6 separate regions of the Homo sapiens genome follow, and all the other regions are reported to be linked to region 6. The links are microRNA targets in miRTarBase. Many come from high-throughput screens and were not tested one by one. Region 6 holds a microRNA gene; each other region holds the end of a gene's coding sequence. Distances are from middle to middle.

What was found. Region 6 holds the annotated microRNA hsa-miR-149-3p (AGGGAGGGACGGGGGCUGUGC, at 1,810-1,830, opposite strand). A microRNA usually pairs through its seed, bases 2 to 8, with sites in the 3' UTR of a target mRNA and lowers its output. Matches are read on the target gene's strand: a 7mer-m8 pairs with bases 2 to 8, a 7mer-A1 pairs with bases 2 to 7 and ends in A, and an 8mer does both.
Region 1: the mRNA of MIGA2 is a reported target of hsa-miR-149-3p. Seed matches in the 3' UTR shown: 7mer-A1 at 1,273-1,279, 7mer-m8 at 1,423-1,429, 7mer-A1 at 1,534-1,540, 7mer-A1 at 1,625-1,631, 7mer-A1 at 2,276-2,282 and 7mer-A1 at 2,338-2,344.
Region 2: miRTarBase lists LINGO3 as a target of hsa-miR-149-3p. Seed matches in the 3' UTR shown: 7mer-m8 at 450-456, 7mer-m8 at 455-461, 7mer-m8 at 460-466 and 7mer-m8 at 2,433-2,439.
Region 3: miRTarBase lists GGCX as a target of hsa-miR-149-3p. Seed matches in the 3' UTR shown: 7mer-A1 at 2,337-2,343, 7mer-A1 at 2,470-2,476 and 7mer-m8 at 2,625-2,631.
Region 4: the mRNA of HLA-A is a reported target of hsa-miR-149-3p. Seed matches in the 3' UTR shown: 7mer-m8 at 420-426.
Region 5: the mRNA of GPKOW is a reported target of hsa-miR-149-3p. Seed matches in the 3' UTR shown: 7mer-A1 at 555-561.

The regions. Positions count from the first base shown.
Region 1 is chr9:129,069,471-129,072,888 of GRCh38, forward strand. It overlaps MIGA2 (mitoguardin 2), which reads left to right. Exons shown (of 16, transcript NM_001329990.2): 15 at 379-495; 16 at 777-2,612. The coding sequence ends at 983. Among named protein-coding and RNA genes, the nearest start is that of DOLPP1, 9.9 kb to the right of the region's middle. RefSeq lists enhancers at 287-426, 1,374-2,323, 2,324-3,273.
Region 2 is chr19:2,287,038-2,290,429 of GRCh38, reverse strand. LINGO3 (leucine rich repeat and Ig domain containing 3) reads left to right here. Exons shown (of 2, transcript NM_001101391.3): 2 at 1-3,266. The coding sequence ends at 432. Among named protein-coding and RNA genes, the nearest start is that of PEAK3, 6.6 kb to the right of the region's middle. RefSeq lists a silencer at 395-504.
Region 3 is chr2:85,547,017-85,550,431 of GRCh38, reverse strand. GGCX (gamma-glutamyl carboxylase) reads left to right here. Exons shown (of 15, transcript NM_000821.7): 15 at 306-3,415. The coding sequence ends at 498. Among named protein-coding and RNA genes, the nearest start is that of MAT2A, 9.6 kb to the right of the region's middle.
Region 4 is chr6:29,945,229-29,948,615 of GRCh38, forward strand. HLA-A (major histocompatibility complex, class I, A) reads left to right here. Exons shown (of 8, transcript NM_002116.8): 7 at 6-53; 8 at 223-642. The coding sequence ends at 227. It overlaps LOC124901298 (a long non-coding RNA gene), which reads right to left and starts at 365. Exons shown (of 3, transcript XR_007059541.1): 1 at 1-365.
Region 5 is chrX:49,110,688-49,114,163 of GRCh38, reverse strand. It overlaps GPKOW (G-patch domain and KOW motifs), which reads left to right. Exons shown (of 11, transcript NM_015698.6): 10 at 226-311; 11 at 409-757. The coding sequence ends at 543. Among named protein-coding and RNA genes, the nearest start is that of GPKOW, 11 kb to the left of the region's middle.
Region 6 is chr2:240,454,410-240,457,885 of GRCh38, reverse strand. It overlaps MIR149 (microRNA 149), which reads right to left and starts at 1,885; the gene lies at 1,797-1,885. All of the region lies in intron 1 of GPC1 (glypican 1), which reads right to left. GPC1-AS1 (GPC1 antisense RNA 1) reads left to right here and starts at 1,186. Exons shown (of 3, transcript NR_161169.1): 1 at 1,186-1,289. RefSeq lists an enhancer at 1,935-2,585.

The DNA.
Region 1 (3,418 bases), not on the chromosome of region 6:
CCGCCCCAGTCAGGCCCCTGTAATCTCCGCTCCCAGGCAGCGACTGGCTGTGCTATCTGGCCTGTGGTTTGTCGTTCCCCTCTGCGGGCCAGGCTCTGTTGCCTAGCTGATACCAGCTGCCGTGGCCACGTGCTCCAGGCACTTCCCGCGGAGCCACTATGGCCCCACCTCTTGCAGTACTCACAGCGGCCCATGGTTACCCTGTCTGCAGAAGTTAAAATGGGCTTCGAAAGCTTGAGTCACTGCCCAGGGTCATCTAGCAGGAAAGTACATGAGCTGGGGCGACCTCTAAAGCCCAGCCCTTTATGCGACACCTGGGCCTGGTGCCCTCATCCTACCTGGGCCCCGCCTGGCCCCTCAGCCTTGTGCCCACCGCAGGTGCCTGATGGCTTCATCTCCCATTTCTACTCCGTATCGGAGCATGTGAGCCCTGTCCTAGCCTTCGGCTTCCTTGGACCCAAGCCTCAGCTTGCTGAAGTCTGTGCTTTCTTCAAGGTAAACAGAGAGCAGTTCTCGTTCTTTCCTGACCCTTGCCCTGAGCACAGGCGCCCTGGGAGGTGCCAGGAATGGGATGAGGGCCTGGGCCTGGGCCTGCTCCCAGAGAGAGGGCAGAGCCAGACCCACATGGGTCCAGAGGAAGCAGTGGGAGGGAGGAGCCTGGGGATGGAAAGGACCGGCTGGGGCTCTGGTGGTGGACAAGGGGACTTCAGGTAACCTGGGGGGCATCATGGTGGGCAGTGGCTGGGCCAGGCCTGACACCAGCCCTGCTCCCCCAGCACCAGATTGTGCAGTACCTGAGGGACATGTTCGACCTGGACAATGTGCGCTACACGTCACTGCCCGCGCTGGCAGACGACATCCTGCAGCTGTCCCGGCGCCGCAGCGAGATATTGCTGGGGTACCTGGGGGTGCCCGCGGCCAGCAGCGCAGGCGTGAATGGGGCGCTGCCCCGAGAGAATGGGCCCCTGGGGGAGCTGCAGTAGAGGCGGCACGGGCTGGGGGGTGGCAGAGAGAAGGCTCCTCCTCCCTTCCCTGGGTTGGTATCTGACAGCTGTGGTGGCTGAGGGCCGTTGCCCCTGACTTTGCCCCACCCCCATCATCTGGGAGTCCCCAAGGCCCAGAGGGGACATTTCCATGGAGAAGAACGGTTCCTGGGGGAAGCAGAGGCCAGGACCAGTGGGGCCTGTGGGAGAGAAAGGCTGTGAGAGAGGGGGTTGTTGTGGAGAATTGGGACAGGCAGAGCCAGGATGCCCCAGGTGGGGGACCCCAAAACCTCCCATCGCTCCAGGGCTGCTGACAAGGGTGCTGGGAGGGTGGAGGTGAAGGATGGGGCCTAGAGCCCTGTGGTGAAGGTCACAGTGTCCTGAGCTAGAAGCCACCTGTGGCTATATGGTCTCAGCATCCAGCTGGCCTGTCCTGATGCCCTCCCCACCTCAACCGCCTTCTCAGAGAGTTTGCAACTCCAGAGAAGGAGAGTGGGGCCACCTTAGTGGGCAGCAGGCCTGGGCCATCCAGAGATGGGGCAGAGGTGGGCCTCCCACTCCTGTGCTCTCTTCTGAGCAGGAACTGGGCCCTTGACAGTGTCCTTTGACATTCCCTCGCCCTACCAAAGATCGTCTTTTCTCCTCCCACCTCTGTCACCACCAAAGACGGGCGGAGGTGGGGCTGGGCCCTCCTGCCCCCGCCCATCCCCCTTCCATGAGCCCAGACCTCCCTGGGTGGTGCTAGGCTCTGAGCTGGGGGCTCAGACCAGGGATCGCTCAGGCCCCTGTCACCTGTGGGCCCGGGGACCACTTGGGGGAGGTCAGAGGATGTATGTGGCCGGACCAGCTTCCCCACCTTCATTAGGACAAGAAACTGCCCAGCACTTTGCCTTCAGTTCAACGCACAAACGCTCCTGGGGCCTCATGGGGGCAGAGCCTCCCCTGGGCCTGCAGAGAGTCCTGTTAGCAGCGACGTCCCCCCGCCGCGGGGTCCTGTCAGCCCGGCAGTGTCTTCTCAGTGTCTTCACCTGAGCGAGTGTCTGTGGCCCCAACGCGTTCTGCTGTGGCTCTGCCCTTTCCAGGTTGAGAGGCCTGCAGGAGAAACACACTCCCCTCCTGGGTTTCCACACTCAGGAGGTCAGAGGACTGGCTCCTGTGACCAGGGCCCCTCTCCCCTGAATGGGAAAGGGGTCTGGGGATGGGAGGGCGCACCACAGAGAGGAGATGATGCTGGGTGTGGCCCATCTTCTGTGGGCCCCTTCCCAGACACCGGATCCATGGGCACTAACCCGCCTCCCAGGCTGATGCCCGGAGGCAGCTTCCTGGGCAGGAGGGTTCCATGGGCACTAACCCACCTCCCAGGCTGATGCCTGGAGGCAGCCTCCAGGGCAGGAAGGACCCTGTGCTCCCCGCCCCCCATCCTGACATCCTGTTCTTTTGCACTTACCCTGTGCTGTGAATGTAACAGTGGGCCTTGGCCCCGCCCACTCTGATTTGCATTTTCATTTGTGTTTGTTTACACATCCATGCACTGCCTGTAGCAGTCGATTGTCACAGCTTCGACTTTTGGATGGTAGAGTGTGTGCACTGACTGTGAGTCGAATAAACAATTGAGACGATTTCCTTCCACTTTGCCATGTTGTTGGTTATGTGCATGGCTGTTTGCTTCTTGGGGCAGAGCAGGGCACCTGCTTTTTGGGGTGCCGTGGGTGAAGGTTCCAGGAGGACAAAGGTCAGGAGAAGCCTGGTGGGGGCTGTGATCCTACTTGGGGCAACTTGACTGCCTGACAGGATCCAGCCATCCCTAGGCAGGGAGGGCCCCGGTGGTCCGCGGGGAAGGGTGGGGAGCGGCCAGTGCCACGCTCAAGGCCATGGATGCAAGGTGGGCAGCCTGGCTGTGGACCCTGCTCAGGCACCATCTTAGGGAAGTCGATTCTCACTGGCCCTCAGTTTCCACATCTGTAAAATGCAGGCACTGGACCGGGCCAAGATGCAGACTCACAGGCTTAAAGGTTGTTACCCCCCAAGCTGTGAGAGCCAGGGGGAGGGGCTGGAACACTGGGAACAGGTCCAAGCCTGCCGGATCGTTACAAGTTTTCATGGGCAGCTGGAAATCACAAGTTTTATTTTACAGGTTTTTAAAAAAGAAACTTTAAAAAAAAATTTCAAATGTATGGAAAAATTGAAAAAACTATATAAAACCAACACTTCTGGTCATGTAATTAACATTTTGACTTTTTTTTTTTTTTCTTGAGACAGAGTCTCGATCTGTCACTCAGGCTGGAGTGCAGTGGCACGATCTCAGCTCACTGCAAGCTCTGCCTCCCAGGTTCACGCCATTCTCCTGCCTCAGCCTCCCGAGTAGCTGGGATTACAGGCACATGCCACCATGCCCAGCTAATTTTTTTGTATTTTTAGTAGAGACGAGGTTTTAC
Region 2 (3,392 bases), not on the chromosome of region 6:
ACGGCCACCAGCGCGGGCCGGGCGCGCGTGCTCCCCGGGGGGACGCTGGAGATCCAGGACGCGCGGCCGCAGGACAGCGGCACCTACACGTGCGTGGCCAGCAACGCGGGCGGCAACGACACCTACTTCGCCACGCTGACCGTGCGCCCCGAGCCGGCCGCCAACCGGACCCCGGGCGAGGCCCACAACGAGACGCTGGCGGCCCTGCGCGCGCCGCTCGACCTCACCACCATCCTGGTGTCCACCGCCATGGGCTGCATCACCTTCCTGGGCGTGGTCCTCTTCTGCTTCGTGCTGCTGTTCGTGTGGAGCCGCGGCCGCGGGCAGCACAAAAACAACTTCTCGGTGGAGTACTCCTTCCGCAAGGTGGATGGGCCGGCCGCCGCGGCGGGCCAGGGAGGCGCGCGCAAGTTCAACATGAAGATGATCTGAGGGGTCCCCAGGGCGGACCCTCCCCTCCCCTCCCCCGCGGGCCGGCCGCTCGCGTGTCCACCTATGCATTTCCCGGAGGGGAAGGGGACGGCTGCACGGCGCTCCCCAGGCAGAACTTCCCCTTTTTTTGTAGACGCCCAACCGCAGGACTGTTTTTCATCAGCATGCGTCTTTTTTGCAGTTTCTCAAGCGTTTTCTAAAGATTTCAACCCGTCTTCCTGTCCCTGCTATGGTGGCTGAGCTGGGGGGTGGGGGTGCGGGCTGCAAGGATGGGGGGATGGGCTCCCGTCTACCAACCCGGGGTGGCTGGGGGCGCTCAGAGACCCCAGGATCCTCAGGGCCCGCAATTCACACCCAGGAGGCACAAGACTGCTGCCCCCAAGCCCTGGGCTTCCGCTCCCCCAGCCCTTTGTACACAGATCGCATCGGGGAGACGGTGGACACCCGGGTCCCACAAAGGGCCCCACAGCCCCAAGGGGAGGGTGCGCAGAAAGTCTGCATTGCTCACACCTGGCCGTCCTACACCTCACACCCAGAGACACACTCACACCTGGAACCCAATCACACAGGTGCAACACACCTCACACCCAGCCGACACTAAAACCAGACCCGGGGCACCAGAGCTGACCGCAGGGGGCAGGCAGGGCTCTCGTGAGAGCAAAGCTCACACCCGGGACAGGCGCAACTCACACCCGGGACACACAGCTCACACCCAGGACACACACAGCTCACACCCAGAACACACAGCTCACACCCGGGACACACAGCTTACACCCGGGAAACACAGCTCACACCCGGGACACACAGCTCACACCCGGAACACAGAGCTCACACCCGGGACACACAGCTCATACGCAGGACACACTCAGCTCACACCTGATACAAGGACAGCTCACAGTGGAACACACAGCTCACACCCGGGATACAGCTCACACCCAGGACACACTCAGCTCACACTGGAACACACAGCTCACACCCAGAACACAGAACTCACATCTGGGACACACACAGCTCACACCCGAGACACACACCCTCACACCCAGCTGACACTAAAACCAAGCCCTGGGCACCAGAGCTGACCACAGAGGCAGGCAGGGCTCTCGTGAGAGCACAGCTCACACCAGGGACATGCTCAGTTCACACCTGGGACAGGCACAACGCATAACTGAGACACAGCTCACACCTGGGACACAGAGCCCACCCCAGCGCCTGCTCAGCTGAGCATCTCCCAGCCGACCTCGGGGCCTGGGCTCAGGTCTTGCTGAGGACCCAGCACACACGGTGGTCACAGTCAGGGGTCCACACGCCCTGTCCTCCGTCCTCCCCACAGCCCAGCAGGGCTGTCCACAAGAAGGAGCCATCACCCCAGCCCTCCGCCTCCCTCCGCTGCCACGTGCTTCCCAGAACAGCAGGCAAGAGAGGGCCACCCCACAAGGGAGAGGTGGCCACCCTGCCCCGGCCCAGAACCATGGCTTCTGGGGTGCTGAGTGTCCTTCCAAATGGGTCTACTGGAGGGACTTTTGCCCCTAGGTACACATGACCTCTGAGCCGGCCTCAGACAAGCCCTGAGCGTGGCCCCATCATGGCCGGCCCTGCTGACCCGTGGCTCAGGTGGGGAACGAGACCAAAGAGCACAGGGGGTTCCCGGGGATCCCGGCTACGTGCGGTGCAGTGTAGTGACAAGAACAAGGCCGGAACAAGGGCTTCACCCTGCAGGGAGGCCTGGACCCGGGTCCTCGGGAGAAGGTGATGGAGGAAGCTGGGTCTCTGCACCTGCAGAGGTGGGGCAGATCCAGGACCAAAGCTGGGGTCACAGGCCGACTGCAGCTCTGGTCAAGGAAGAGCTTCCCTGAGGTCACCGCCCGGTTGCTCTGCAGATGGTGGGCATCCTGTCACGGGGGGCAAACAAGCAGGAGCTGAGGTTTTGCAGAAGGATTCAGGCACCAGACCGGGACCACAGGGACCATCTGTGACCTGGCCTCCTCACAGCCAGTTCTTGCCCCTCCCCTCCACATCCTCCAGAGGACAGTTAGGACATTGCTGGGGGCAGGGACAGGAACCACTGTTGGGCCAAAACCTCAGCCAGAAAGGGGCTTGGCTGCCAACCAAGAGGTTAGGACAGACCCTCCAGGACTTTGCGGGAAGGGCTCAAAAGCAGCTCTGCTCCTGCCCGGCTATGTGATCTCAGCTGGTGACTGAAGACCACCTAGACCATCAGTGTCCTCATCTGTAAAATGGGTCTGAGGGTCAAACCTATTACCCTGTATTCAGAGGCCAGGCCTGCAGATGAGCTTGATGGCTTGACTTGGATCCTGGATCCCTGAAGACTGCTCTGAGATCGATCAGCCAGAGAGAAACAGAGAGAAAGCTGGCTCAGCCCTGAAGGCTTTGAGCAAAAGTTTCAGAAGGAGCTGGAAGGAGACAACAGCCCGTTCTCCCTGAGCTGTGGCCGGGAGGGCCCAGGCCAGCACCACGATGTACAGATGGCCCAGGGGGCTCGACATGAGTGAGGGCTGAAGTTCGTGCAACCCCAACCGCCACCCCTGAATTGGGCAGAACCAATTTTTTTCTTAGCACCTGTCTGACTCTGCTTACCATGACAACCCCAAGGGCCCCCCAGAATTGATATCCAAGTGCCTTTAGCCTATCAAAGACAGGAGGGGGTGCATTCTCGGCCAGGTTAGGGTTCACAGAGCATCCGTATATTAGGATTTCCCAGCCCCCTGAGCCCCCCACCCCATCCCAACATGAACTAAGACCCCTCAGCACCCCCACCCCTCATCCTGCTGTATTTGGTTCAAATCCAATAAAAATGGAACCGATTTAATAACAAACTTCAGATTTTGTTCTTACTCCCATGGGAGCAACAGGGGGCAGGGCTGAGGGATGAGGGGCTGCTGGGGTCCCCAGGGGAAGCCAACCCTGAGGGAATTCCACGCCACTAGTGACATGTGATAGGC
Region 3 (3,415 bases), 150 Mb from region 6:
CCTGCCATTCTTCTTGATTTACTGGAAGAATAAGTGGCCTATATCTGATGGCCTGCTTTCTTGTTCTGCCTCAGCTTATCTCCAGCCTCTCTGTGGGCTGTTCCTACCCTATCCTGGAATCCTCTACCAGACTGTATAAAGAGTGGTGTACCCTTCCAGCTGGGAGATGGAGGGTCACTTGGGGGGAGATTCCCATATATGCCTGTGTGGGAGGAGTGAGGACCAGGTGCCTTCTAAGGGCTTTAGCTGAAATTCTTCTGGTGAAACAGGAGTTTGAACTTGGTCGGCTTTTTCCTGTTTTTCAGCTTCCTGATGACTTGTATCTCACTTCGAAATCTGATATTAGGCCGTCCTTCCCTGGAGCAGCTGGCCCAGGAGGTGACTTATGCAAACTTGAGACCCTTTGAGGCAGTTGGAGAACTGAATCCCTCAAACACGGATTCTTCACATTCTAATCCTCCTGAGTCAAATCCTGATCCTGTCCACTCAGAGTTCTGAAGGGGGCCAGATGTTGGGTGCAGATGTAGAAGCAGCCAGTCACAGACCCATTCTATGCAATGGACATTTATTTGAAAAAAATTCTCAAAAGTTTTTTTTTTTTTTTTGGGGGGGCGGGGTTCTAAAGCTGTTTTTAACTCCGAGATTACAACTTAGAGGAACCAAGGAAATAAAGCAAATAAGATTTAACAACCCAAGATTAAGAGGCCAGGAAGAGGTTAGACGCAATGTGAAACTGTCCTCCTAGGATAAGGTTTAAAGTGGCTTTTTGGGGGCTGGGTGCCGTGGCTCACGCCTGTAATCCCAGCATTTTGGGAGGCTGAGGTGGGCAGATCACTTGAGGCCAGGAGTTCGAGACCAGCCTGGCCAACATGGCAAAACCCCTTCTCTACTAAAAATACAAAAATTAGCCAGACGTGGTGGTGGGTGCCTGTAATCCAACTACCCAGGAGGCTGAGGCATGAGAATCGCTTGGGCCCAGGAGGTGGAGGTTGCAGTGAGCCGAGATCGAGCCACTGCACTCCTGGGCAACAGAGCAAGACTTCGTCTCAAAATAAATAAATAAAGTGGCTCTTGGGGAAAAGCAATTTAATGTACCACGATGAATAGCTAACTGTTCCCAAGTGTTTGCTATGTGCAACACACCGCGTGAGCAGTGTTACCTGCATTATTACATTAGGCTGAGAGGTAAAATAATTTGCCCGAAGACATACAGCTAGTGACGAATGGACTGATGGTTTGAACTTAACGTCTATTTGACTTAAGGTCCTGCACCCTGCCACTTGTAATTTTCAGAATCACTGATAATCTGAAATAATGCAGCTTAAAACATGTTTTCTTAATTAAAAGTATAATTGGATGGTGGTCAGGTTGTAAATGCACACAAAGTAATTTATCTTCATTGCAATTTTGGTTCCTTCTTTGTTCCTATTATCTATATACACCCAGTGTTTCACTAGCAGTTATGAGAGCAGTCAGAATAGCAGCATCAAAGTTAAATAAGGAAATCTAGATGATTGCTAGATTTTCTCTAAAAATAAGCTTAGTATTTGGTATTATTCTAGCCTTTGGTGAGCAGAAGGGGAGGTAAAGTAAGAATTAACTAAATTTAGTAAGGGATTAGGGAATGCTTAGACATTTTGTAGGTTGGGGTATACAAGGGTAACTCAGGAAGCTCCTCAGTTCAGTGAAAATTCAAAGGGTTGGCACTGAGCTAGGAAGCGAGAATGCAGGGTTATGAAAAAGGATCCCTGCTTTGGGAGCTCATGGACTTGTAGCAGAGACCGGTAGTAAATTGGCAGTCTCAGTAACTTCTGTAAATGATTGCATCTCTTTGCAGGCTTCTCTTCCCATACTCTCCCCCACTCCTCCTTGGACAGTGTTCCGGGGGTTCTTTCCTAAGCAACTGCTTTTTCAGTATACATACTTCAGATGATTGTGTCTACTCCAGGATTTCCAACGATGCTAGGTTTCTTTCCTGTGCCCTAGACGTATAGGTCTAAGTTCCACCTGGATATCCCACAGGGCTATCAAGCTCAGTTCATCCTAAACAGAACTTACATTCATCCCCAACTCAGACTTCCTTATTCTTTATTATTGAATGGCAGCTCTGTACCTTAGCCAAGCTGTTATCTCTAGGTCATCAGCCTTGACTCTTCCTTTTTCCTTGCATTTCTTAAAATTGCCAAGTCCCATCAATTTTACCTCCTGGATACCTCTTGAATCTATTTTTTTTTAAAGACAGGGTTTCACTCTATCACCCAGGCTGGAGTTCAGTGGCACAATCTTGGCTTACTGCAGCCACCACCTCCTGGGTTTAAACGATTCTTCCACTTCAGCCTCCCATGTAGCTGGGACTACAGGTGCCCACCACCACGCCCAACTAATTTTTGTATTTTTAGTAGAGACATGGTTTCCCACATTGGCCAGGCTGGTCTCAAACTCATGACCTTAAGTATCCACCTGCCTTGGCCTCCCAAAGGGCTGGGATTACAGGTGTGAGCCACCGTGCCCAGCCAAATCTGTTTTCATTACTACCTATATCTGTATTTTCAACCTTTGTATTAGCATCTAGTTAGGGATAGACCAGGACAGGGCCGACATGTTAGTTGTCAAGCAGATTGCCACCCTCCCCCACCACTGAGGAGGCCAAATGGAGTTTGGTGGAAAATCTCTAATTCATTCAAGGTATTATATGGGCAAGCAATGGCTGTGGCACAGGGTCCCCTGATTACTTTGTAAGAATGGGTGGGAGGGATGCTGATTTTCAATCCTTTTGCAGATCTTCTCTCATAGTAACACAATAGAAGATACTTTGCCACTATGTTGTTTGCCAAACTCACTGTACCTACTTGACTGGTAACAAAAGTCCCAAGAGTTACTTGGGAGAAGACACTTGAAAAAGTATTTTTCTAAATATGGGCAAGGATGCTGCCCTTCCCCAAACTGTTAGTATACCACCTCTCTGACCAATTTTCCCAAGGAAGATATTGGGGTAGGGTGAGGTGTAAAGAAAAAGTGGTCATGTAAATACTGGTAATAAAAGCTGTTCAGTGGGGTAGAGTTGGGTTGCAACTGTAGCCATTCTAAAAATGGGCTATCAATGTCCTTTTAGCCAAAAGACTTTAGTATACATCCTCCTCATTCTACCCTCAGGATTTGGATCTTTGCCCCTGATGGGTATCCATCCCCTTTGAAACTTTAGAAAGGCAGGTTATATACAGAATGTTCAACCTAAAGACATTTCCTTAAGTCATACTTTCATGCTTTCTAAACTATAATCACCCTTATCATCCCCTGCTGTTATGCTTTCCCTCTGCTCCCTGTGGCCTAATGTTCCTCCACCACCTTATTAACCTTCAGGATACTTTTCCCCTAGGCTGGGCAGGACAACACTATCCCCTTGGTCCACAAGCTC
Region 4 (3,387 bases), not on the chromosome of region 6:
CCCAGGCAGTGACAGTGCCCAGGGCTCTGATGTGTCCCTCACAGCTTGTAAAGGTGAGAGCTTGGAGGACCTAATGTGTGTTGGGTGTTGGGCGGAACAGTGGACACAGCTGTGCTATGGGGTTTCTTTGCATTGGATGTATTGAGCATGCGATGGGCTGTTTAAGGTGTGACCCCTCACTGTGATGGATATGAATTTGTTCATGAATATTTTTTTCTATAGTGTGAGACAGCTGCCTTGTGTGGGACTGAGAGGCAAGAGTTGTTCCTGCCCTTCCCTTTGTGACTTGAAGAACCCTGACTTTGTTTCTGCAAAGGCACCTGCATGTGTCTGTGTTCGTGTAGGCATAATGTGAGGAGGTGGGGAGACCACCCCACCCCCATGTCCACCATGACCCTCTTCCCACGCTGACCTGTGCTCCCTCCCCAATCATCTTTCCTGTTCCAGAGAGGTGGGGCTGAGGTGTCTCCATCTCTGTCTCAACTTCATGGTGCACTGAGCTGTAACTTCTTCCTTCCCTATTAAAATTAGAACCTTAGTATAAATTTACTTTCTCAAATTCTTGCCATGAGAGGTTGATGAGTTAATTAAAGGAGAAGATTCCTAAAATTTGAGAGACAAAATAAATGGAAGACATGAGAACCTTCCAGAGTCCACGTGTTTCTTGTGCTGATTTGTTGCAGGGGAGGAGAGTAGATGGGGCTGTGCCCAGTTTCTGTTCTGGCCACCATGGGCTTTATGTGGTCACAGCTCACCTGGGTCATCTTTGCTGCTCCATTGTCCTTGGCCCTTCAGTAGAACCTTGTCCCACCAAGACCTGTGATCACAGGGAGTTGGATGTCACCTAGGGTGGTCCCTGCATACAAATCTCCTTGTGGTATCAAGAGACAAATTTTCAGACCTGTCCAGGTCTTGCCTTCCTCCCAGGGCTTTTTCCTTAATGGTATTTTCGATTTTTCTCCAATCTTTTTAAAGGAACCAGATTGTGACATTTGCAGAGAGGAGGGGTCCCATAGTTTCTCATCATGGTTAACTTTCTGTTGGAACTCCTCTTCTGCCCTCCTACTCTTCTTCCTGCTCTGAGTTGTAGTAATCCTAGTGCTGGCTCCAATCCAAACTCATAGATTTATAAAGCAGAGTCTAATTTAGATTCATATGTGGTTGGAAAATTGTACCCATAAGGCTAGGGTTATTGTTCCTGAAGAGAAATATATGGTTTTGTGCTGAAGTGTGCAGGAGGGTTGGTGTGGGAGGAGGGAGGACATACAAGCAGCCCTGGTGAGAAAAGCACTGGCGGCATGGATGTCCACGTGAACTTATGTTCTTTAGCTGCCACAAAACAGCATTTGCCCTGTGGCTACATTAATAAAGATATGGGCTTTAGAATAGGGAGGTGCTCTACAGTGATCATTCATTCAACTGACATTTGTTGTCTGCTAGGGATATGACTGCTTTTGCATTTAGAAAGCATCCTTAAAGTAAAAACAGAAAAATGTCTGGGGTTATGGTGCATACGTTCTAGATGCAGGCTTGTCCAACCCGCGGCTCGTGGGCTGCATGTGGCCCAGGACAATTTTGAATGTGAGGACTTTTTTGCTTATCTGTGGTGAACCTGAGTCCTGGAGTGAGTGCACCCACCTCCCTCAGGGTCAGGAGTGAATGCTTTAGGAACCCTCCTTTTCAGTGACCTGCAAAAGATAGAGGGCACATTTACTGTGATAACCCAGAGTATCAGCCAAGGGGGCTTGACCTTCAAGGAGTTGTGGGGAAGGTTAATAAAGGGTGGTGTCCCAGGGTCAGAAAAGATGGGCAGACAGCAAGGGCACTGCTTGATATCTATGATAAGCATGTGGAATTGAGGAGCAAGCTTCAGATTCAGAATCCAGTGACTAAGGACATATCTATATCCCTAAGAGAAAGAACCTTGGGACACGATGATGGTTATATGCTGGGACAATTCCATCAGCCCTTCTGCAAAGGAGCCTATAGCCATTTAATCAGGAGATGGGATAAGTATTAACATTGGGTGTGAGCTGACATTGCTGCCCAGATTCCTACAGCACCATTATGTCCCCCATCACACTGGGGCTTACAGAGGCCAGGGAATAAACCTAGATACATTATGCCCCATGGTGGAATCACCAGTTCCATAAATCCTGTCCTGGTTATCTCCCCATTCTCTGAGTGCATAATTGGCCTTGATGCACTGGCAACTGGAGTCACCCCACACTGTGTCCCTAGTCTGGAGAGTAAGGGATCTCACTGTGCTGAAGCCCAAAGGGAAACATCCCTCATCCAAGCCAAACCAGAAGCAATATTGTGCCTCAGGGTGGGTCTTGTGGAGGGTACTGCAGGTATTATAGGGGTGGCACTGCCATTACAGACCTGAACGATGTGGGGTGGTGTTGGGATTGCCTGTTATCTCCATATAACTCAGCAATCTGTACCTGCAGAAGCCTGATATGGCTAAAGAATGAATGGAATTACTCCAGACTTGACCAAGTAGGAGTCCTGATTGCAGCTGCCATGCTGGCTGGATATCACTGCCTGGGGAGATTAATAAGGCCTCAGGCACATGGCAAGCAGCTGTGGATTTGGTGAGTGCATTCCCTCCCATTTCATTTAGAAGATGGATATGGAATGATTCACATTCACATGGGATTTATAATACATTTATTGATAGCTTGCATCAGGGCTACCTTAACTCCTCAACCTTCTATAAATATCACCTTAAGAGACCTGGACGAATCAGACATCCCACAGAATACTAAATCTCTTCATTTCATTGGCAATATCACATAAATTGGGAAGGATGAACAACAGCAGGAAAGTACGCTGAATTCCCTGGCAAAACATGTGCACTACAGAAGGTGAAGATAAAACTTACAGAGCTTCAAGAGTGGCCACTGCAGTGAAGTGTTATGGGTCCAGTGGTTAGGGGCATGCAGAGCTCCCCGCCGCCACACACACACACAAAGTAAAAGACACACTTGCATCTTGCATCCTCACCAGAAGGAAGGATGCACACTACCTTGTGAGCCTCTCTGGGTTCTAGCAACACCACATTCCACATCTAAGTTTATTGCTTTGGCTGACACTCTGGGTGATATAGGAGGAGGCCAGCTTTGAGTGGGGCCTGGACTGGAAAGGACACTGCAGCAGACCCAGGCTGTGGTGCAGTCAGTCACCATCCCTCAGACCCCTGGTGCTGGAGGTGGCGGTCTGGGGAAAGAAGCAGGATGGAGCTGAACCAAGCATCAGTGGGAAAGTCAGAATGCAGGGCCTGGGATCAGGAGTAAGGCCATGGAGTCCACAGCAGAGAAACATGCTCCATGTTAGAAGCAACTTTTAGCATGTTACTGGCCCTGATAAGATAGAATGCTTGAG
Region 5 (3,476 bases), not on the chromosome of region 6:
CAGTCTCAAAAAACAAAACAAAAAAATCTGTAGAGATGAGGTCTGACCATCTTGCCCAGGTTGGTCTCGAACTCCTGGGCTCAAGCGATCCTCCCAACTTAGCCTCCCAAAGTGCTGGGACTACAGGTGTGAGCCACCACGCCTGGCCAGGAAAGGCCCTTCTGACAGGACGCTGGTTGGGCTGGTCCTTGCTGTGGGCCTCACTCCCCTCTCCCTTATCCATAGGCCTGAGGGAAGACATGCTGGAGACCCTGGTTCCCAAGGCAGAGGGTGACCGTGTGATGGTGGTGCTGGGCCCACAGACTGGAAGGGTGAGTCTCAGACCTGGCAGTAGAGGTTTGTGGGTCGTTCAGGGCCTGTCCCAGGGTCTAGGCTTGCCTTGCTGATTCCACTTCACCTCTGTTCCAGGTGGGACATTTGCTGAGCCGGGACAGAGCACGGAGCCGGGCTTTGGTGCAACTGCCAAGAGAAAATCAGGTGGTGGAGCTTCACTACGATGCCATCTGCCAGTACATGGGCCCTAGTGACACAGATGATGACTGACCCATGGGACTCCTCCCATCCCCCAGGCTGGTACCAGTTCTGTACCATATGAGAAAGTTGCCTTCAGAAGGTGGGAAGATCATTGTTCCATCCTCTACTTCTGGTGCAGTCCTGGGACAAGGACAAGGGAAAGGGATGGGTGAACCAGTAGGGAAGCTAGAAACAAACCCAATATTTACCAAAATTTAGGGTATAATAAAAACCATTTCAAGTACTTAATAGAAAGATGAAATCATAAGTGGTATGATGAGCTGCGAGTTAAGGTGGGAACTGAGTTGACTGAGGTGGGAACCATTTCACTTTTCAGCCTTGCTTTTCTGCTCAGGGTACAGGACAAGTTAAAGGACTCATTTGATTGTGAGCTCACTCTTGGAATATAGATACTATAAGCTTGGGCACAGTGGTGCATGCCTGTAATCCTAGCACTTTAGGAGGCTGAGGTGGATGGATCGCTTGAGCCCAGGAGTTCAAGATCAGCCTGGCCAACAAGGTGAAACCCTGTCTCTACTAAAAGTATAAAAATACAAAAAATTACCGAGGTATGGTGGTGCACGCCTATAATCCTAGCTACTCAGGAGGCTGAGGCAAGAGAATCGCTTGAACCCAGGAGGCAGAGGTTGCTGTGAGCCCAGATTGCGCCACTGCACTCCAGCCCAGGGGACAGAGTTAGACTCTGTCTCAAAAAAAAAAAAAAAAATCTTTAGATGCTGTGGAATCTGAAATACTGTATCTCTGAACAACTTTCTGAGCAAGAACTCTAGCAACTAGCAGCAGAGTATGCTTTCACTCTCAGTTTAGAGCAGGACCCCAGAGAATATGCTGAGCCTGGGGTCTTCCTCTGTTGCCCAGACTGGAGTGCAGTGGTGCAATCATAGCTCACAGCAGCATTGATCTCCTGGGCTCAAGCGATCTTCCCGTCTCAGCCTCCCAAAGTGCTGGGATTATAGGCACTGGAATGAGCCACCGTGCCTGGTCTCTGGCTTGTATTTTGTTAATCGTAGGGAGGATGTTCCCAACTTCTCATGTCCAGTAGTCCATTTCCTATGCTTTATGCACTTCACTCTGTCAAGGAGGCCTCCTCCTTTCTCCAATCATAATAAACCAGCCTTGGTAGCACCTTTGAGAAGGGCTAAAGCTCCCCAGGGAATGGCACTGGGGCTCTGTCTCTGCCTGTAACACAACATAACCTGGCCATTTCAGACACCCTCCATCTCCTCCCCGTGCCACAATGCTAAAGCAGATATCTCATCAGCTTCAGATTTCCTGGAATTCATCTTTCTCCTAAGCCTACGCTTGAAAATGGGGCCCAAAGTTCTTGAATATGGCCCTTTGTCCAGAACACCTAGCTCCAGCCAAAGCGCCTGGTCTCCCTTGACAGGCCACTGGGACTTTTTCTGCTTTACCTTGAAAGGAGCCCTGCTGATCCCCATTTTGAGGACAGGGCTCCTTACATTCAGGGAAGTGTGGACAATATAAGGAGGCCTTCCCAATATGCCCTTTGTTCACTGTGCACAAACAAAGCCTTGTATCTGAAGACACTTTGAATCTGTGCAGTGTTCTCTCAGCTTGCTGCCTGGCACCTGCCTGCTGCCAAAGTTGCTCTTGCGGCAGTGGTTACTGCAGCAACGGCTTCTGTGAGCCCGAGAATTCTCTACAGGCCCCTCACAAGCTGGGGACTGTGACCTGTACAATTTGTCCAGACTGGCTTTTTTCACATCACAGGGATTGAGCAAGAGGTAGATTAAAAGGCATCTGCCTCTTCTGCCAAGCCCCCAGAAGTTTCCCTGGCAGGGGTCTGCTTCTGTTAAAAATTGTCCAGATGCCAAGCCTTGAATTTGTAGCAGCAGACTCAGGAAGCAGTTTCTTTGCCTTTCAGAGAGGAGTCAATTATTGAGGTGCTGTGGGTTGCTGTCTGGGCTGTGTTCAGTGGCAGATATGGACAGGTCAGCTCTTCTTTTAAAAAATTTTTTTTAAATAATTTTTTATTTTAAATATAAGAGAGACAAGGTCTCACTATATTGCTCAGGCTGGTCTTGAACTCCTGGGCTCAAGTGATCTTCCCATCTTGGCCTTCCAAAGTGCTGGGATTATAGGCATGAGCCACCACTCCTGGCCTCAGCTCTTTTTTTTTTTTTTTTTTTTTTTTTTTTGAGATGGAGTCTTGCTCTGTCGCCCAGGCTGGAATGCAGTGGCGTGATCTTGGCTCACTGCAACCTCCACCTCCCAGTTTCAAGTGATTCTCCTGCCTCAGCCTCCTTAGTAGCTGGGATTACAGGCGCATGCCACCATGCCCGGCTAATTTTTGTATTTTTAGTAGAGACGGGGTTTCACAGTGTTGGTCAGGCTGATCTCAAACTCCTGACCTCGTGATCTGCCCACCTCGGCCTCCCAAAGTGCTGGGTTTACAGACATGAGCCACCATGCCCAGCCTCAGCTCTCTTTTCTAACATTCCTTCCTCAGTCAAGGGAATGCTCCCCTCTACTCCCACACTGAGGCCACCTCTTCATCTCCATGTCTGCAGCACCACGCAGAGGGATGAAGTATCCAACAGCTTCTAAAGCTATCTAAGTGGGGGCGGGTCCTCACCAAGTCCCCTATCACACCAATTCATTCAACAAACATCTCTTGAGCTCCTACTGAATGCCAGGTACCATCCTGCATGCTAGGGGAACCGTATGGAGTAAATCACTTAATATCAAGACCCTACTATATGCCAGGCAGCATCCTGGGTACCGAGTATGGAGCTACAAACAAAACAAACATCCTTGCCCTTGTGGGGCTGACACTCCACTGGGGCTGAGACAGTGAGCAATAAGCAGAAGTAAGTGATGGAAGATGTTATAAGAAGCTGAGAACCATGGGGGAAAGGGGCAGTATTAATAGGATGGCCACAGAAAGCCTTAGAGAGAAGGTGACATTAAGCAACGGTATT
Region 6 (3,476 bases):
CTTTCCTCAGGACTGCCGCCTCAGGGGCCTGTCTCATCCTGTTCTGGGACCCTGGGCCAGGGTGGCTGGAATGCAGCAGGTCCTGCATTCTTTTACGCCCTCCTGAGGGTCAGCAGGAAGTGAAGGCCAGGCCAGGGAGGAGAGGCAGGAGAGGGAGCCAGGACCGGGACCGAGGGCGGGGTCAGCCCGGGCAGAGGCACCTGGCTCGAGGCTGTCCTGGGGGAGCTGGCAGCAGCTCCAGCCCTGCCTGGAGGTGGGAGCAGGGATCTGTAGCCCCACTGCAGGCAGGGCCTGGAGCAGCGCAGGCAGTGCCCTACCCGCTTACTGCAAGAGAAGTCACCCCTCAGGCCTGGGGTCCAGGAAGCCCTTACCCACTAGAGGCCATCTGGGGTGGGGACCCAGGACTAGGTAACTACCCAGAGGTTGAATGCCTGGGTCAGACTGAGTTTGCTGATCTTCCGCACCCTCTAAGTACACACACTCAGGGAGGAGCCCGAGACAAGAGAAGGGAACAGAGAACCCGAATCCGGGCTTGGGCGGCTGCCGCTTGGCCCCTGTAGCCTCTGTGCCTGCTGACATGACAGCAAGGAGACAGGTTGTCAGAGGGGCCTGGGAGAGCGAGGGAGGGCCGAGGTAGGGGTTCTTATCCTGGAGCGCTCCCTCCTTGCCCTCTTTTCCTGTCTGAGTTCTGGAATGTACTGATGCAGGGGGCTCTGGCTTGAGCTAGAGGGGGAGGGAGTCCTCCGCAGGGGCTGCAGGTCCAGGGATTCCCCAGGGCCTGGACTTACATGTGCCCATGCTGCAGACAGAGCGGGAATGGCAAGTGCACCTGCGCCCCCCGCCCCTCCTTACCTCCAGATGCCTGCTGGAGGGGGAGTTGGGGGTCCAACAGAGTCTGGGGCCAGGAGGGCCTTGTGGGAGCCAGCTGGGGTGAGGACAGAGCCCGGCTCTGAGAGCCCTGGGGCCTAGTAGAGAAGGGGTGCTCCTTCCCCACTCCTCACATGGGTGGGAAGGCGCCCTCAGGCAAGAAGACTGGGACACAGGTACACTCGCCAGGGACCATCCTTCACTCTGCAGCCTTTATTCACTGATGGGATTCTGCCCCAGTCCCACCCCCGTGGGGGCAGGATTTAGAGCAGGAACCGCCCCTCCGGGTCCTTTCCTGGGGCCTGTGCCAGGCTGAGCAGACTCAGGAGGCGTCTCTCCGAGGGTGTGGGCTGTGATGGGGCCCTGTGCACCCATCCAGGCTGCCCAGACCAGGAGAGCACAGGTCAGCCGGACACATGATGGTAATGGGCTGGGCAGTGGGAGGGAAACGTGCCTGGGGGAGGGGGTGGCAGGTGCCAGCTGAGCTTCCCGGTGACACACCCTGGGCTCAGCTGAGATGGGCTCAGCTGTGACGGGGCACCCAGGCCAGGCTGGCTGGGCCACAGGAACCGAGTGAGCTGGTCCAAGACTCAGGACTAGGGCTCAAGCACTCCTAGGGAGGAGGGTGGGTGGCGTCCCCCGCCGGCTCCTCCTGTGCCCCTCCCTCGCGAGGTCCCGGCGGACCCACTCCCCAGCCCCCACCACGCAGACGGGAGAGGCTGACGAGAGGCATGGAGAGGTGAGGCCCGAAACACCCGTAAGATATGGGAGCTCCCCCCACCTGCAGGTTCTGAGGGGCTCCTCGGCGCCGTCAGCCACCTCTCACACCCCCTCACGGCCGCGCACCGGCCCCCGCGCCTCAGCCTCCCCCGCCGACCCCTCAGCCCCGCCCGGCCAACTCGCCCAGCCGGCCCGGCGACCTGCGTTGTTCCAGCTGCCCCAGCACAGCCCCCGTCCCTCCCTCCCTCCTCGGACAAGCACGGGAGTGAAGACACGGAGCCAGAGCTCGGGCGCCGGCCTGGGAGCCCCCGGCAGGCTGGACGCAAGGCGGGCGAAGGCCTGGGAGCCTCGGGCAGGCTGGATCGAGGCGGCCCCCTGAGGCCCGCTGCAGGCTGGACGCACGGCAGTCAAAGGCAGGAGGCCTCCCGCTGGCTTCCTTCTGCGGAGCTCCGGCCCGGCGCAGGCCGGGGCCACAGGTTGTGGTCCTGGACATGAGATGGCAGAGGCCGGCTCTGCAGAGTCCCCCTGCAGGGCGGCAAAGCAAGCCCCCTCCTGGAAGAATGCCAGGGGCTGGGGCCTTTCTGAATGGAGAGCAATGTGCCCAAGACCAGCTGTCATCTTAAATCTCCCCACCCAGGGGCCTCCCCACCCCCAGGGGCCTCCCCACCACTTCTCTCAGCTCAACACCTGGGGATAGAGAGGCCTCAGGCCAGGAGGGAACCCTCCCCATGTCCCTCTCCCTCTCCTTCCTGGCCTTTCTCCTCCTCCAACCCAGAGGGAGGCATTTTCCAACCTAGGGGGTGAGTCCCGGCAGCCCATCCCCTTCCCCCCGTGCAGGGAGGCATCTGGGCCCTTCCGGCCCACCCCTCCCTCTGGCCCTGGGGCTGCTCAGGTCAAGGTCACCGGGCCTGCTCCCCGCTGGGCCAGGGACTGGACCCTCTCTTCCCTGATCCCTGGGCTGAAGTTGCTGTAGCCGACCCATCCTTCCACAGCGCTCCCCTCCCTCAGTCACTGGGACACTTCCCTTCCCCAGTGCTCTGAGGATTTTTTTGGGGGGGAAGGGGATTATTTGTTTAATGGCAGATTCATCCCCCACCTCAAACCCAGAGTCTCCAGTTCCCAGGCTCCTGCTCCTCAGGTTAAAGCACAGAGCTCTTGCTCCCTGGCTCGTAGGCAGCTGCTGTCTCGTTCCATCTTCCCCCTCCCGATCCTGACGGTTCTGGACCACCCCACTCTGCTGCTCCTCACTAAGCCCCCACCAGCCTTAACTTTGGATACCTTTTAGGTCATGCATTCTCGTCCCCTGCTGACATGTCCCCACCCCGCAGTTTCCTCTTGGTCATCAGCACCTTCACCCCAAAGCTTTAGGCGAGACTCCCATCCTGACAGTGGCCCCCATCCCCAATGATGGACCCAGACCTCATTTGTCCAGACCCAGCCTGGCAGCTGCCCGTGACCAGTGGCTCTGGAGCCCTCCCAAGGAGAATGCAGAGAGATGATGGCGCCACGCCACGCCCATCCCTCCAGAAGCTTCCACGGCTCACACAGGAGGTGCAGACTGTAAAGCCGGCTTTATCCACCTTTACAGCCTCGTCCTAGACACTCAGTGTCAACAGACTCGAATGCCTAAGGTACCGGAATTTGGCGTGGACAGTCAGCCTGCATTGCCTCCCACGGTGCTGGAGTAGGGCTGTGTGCAGAGCTCCAGGCACCGCAGCCCCCCAACACGCAAGGGAAGAGCCTAGGCCTCCCCGCTCCTGCCCTCTACTCAGCTCTGCACCCGGCAACGGGGCCTTCCTGGCTGGCCGATGGCTGCGAAGGCTTTCCCCAAGCCCGAACCCTCTTCTCGAAGCCTGCCCCAGCCCCTGGCCCATCTGCTCTCGGACCCC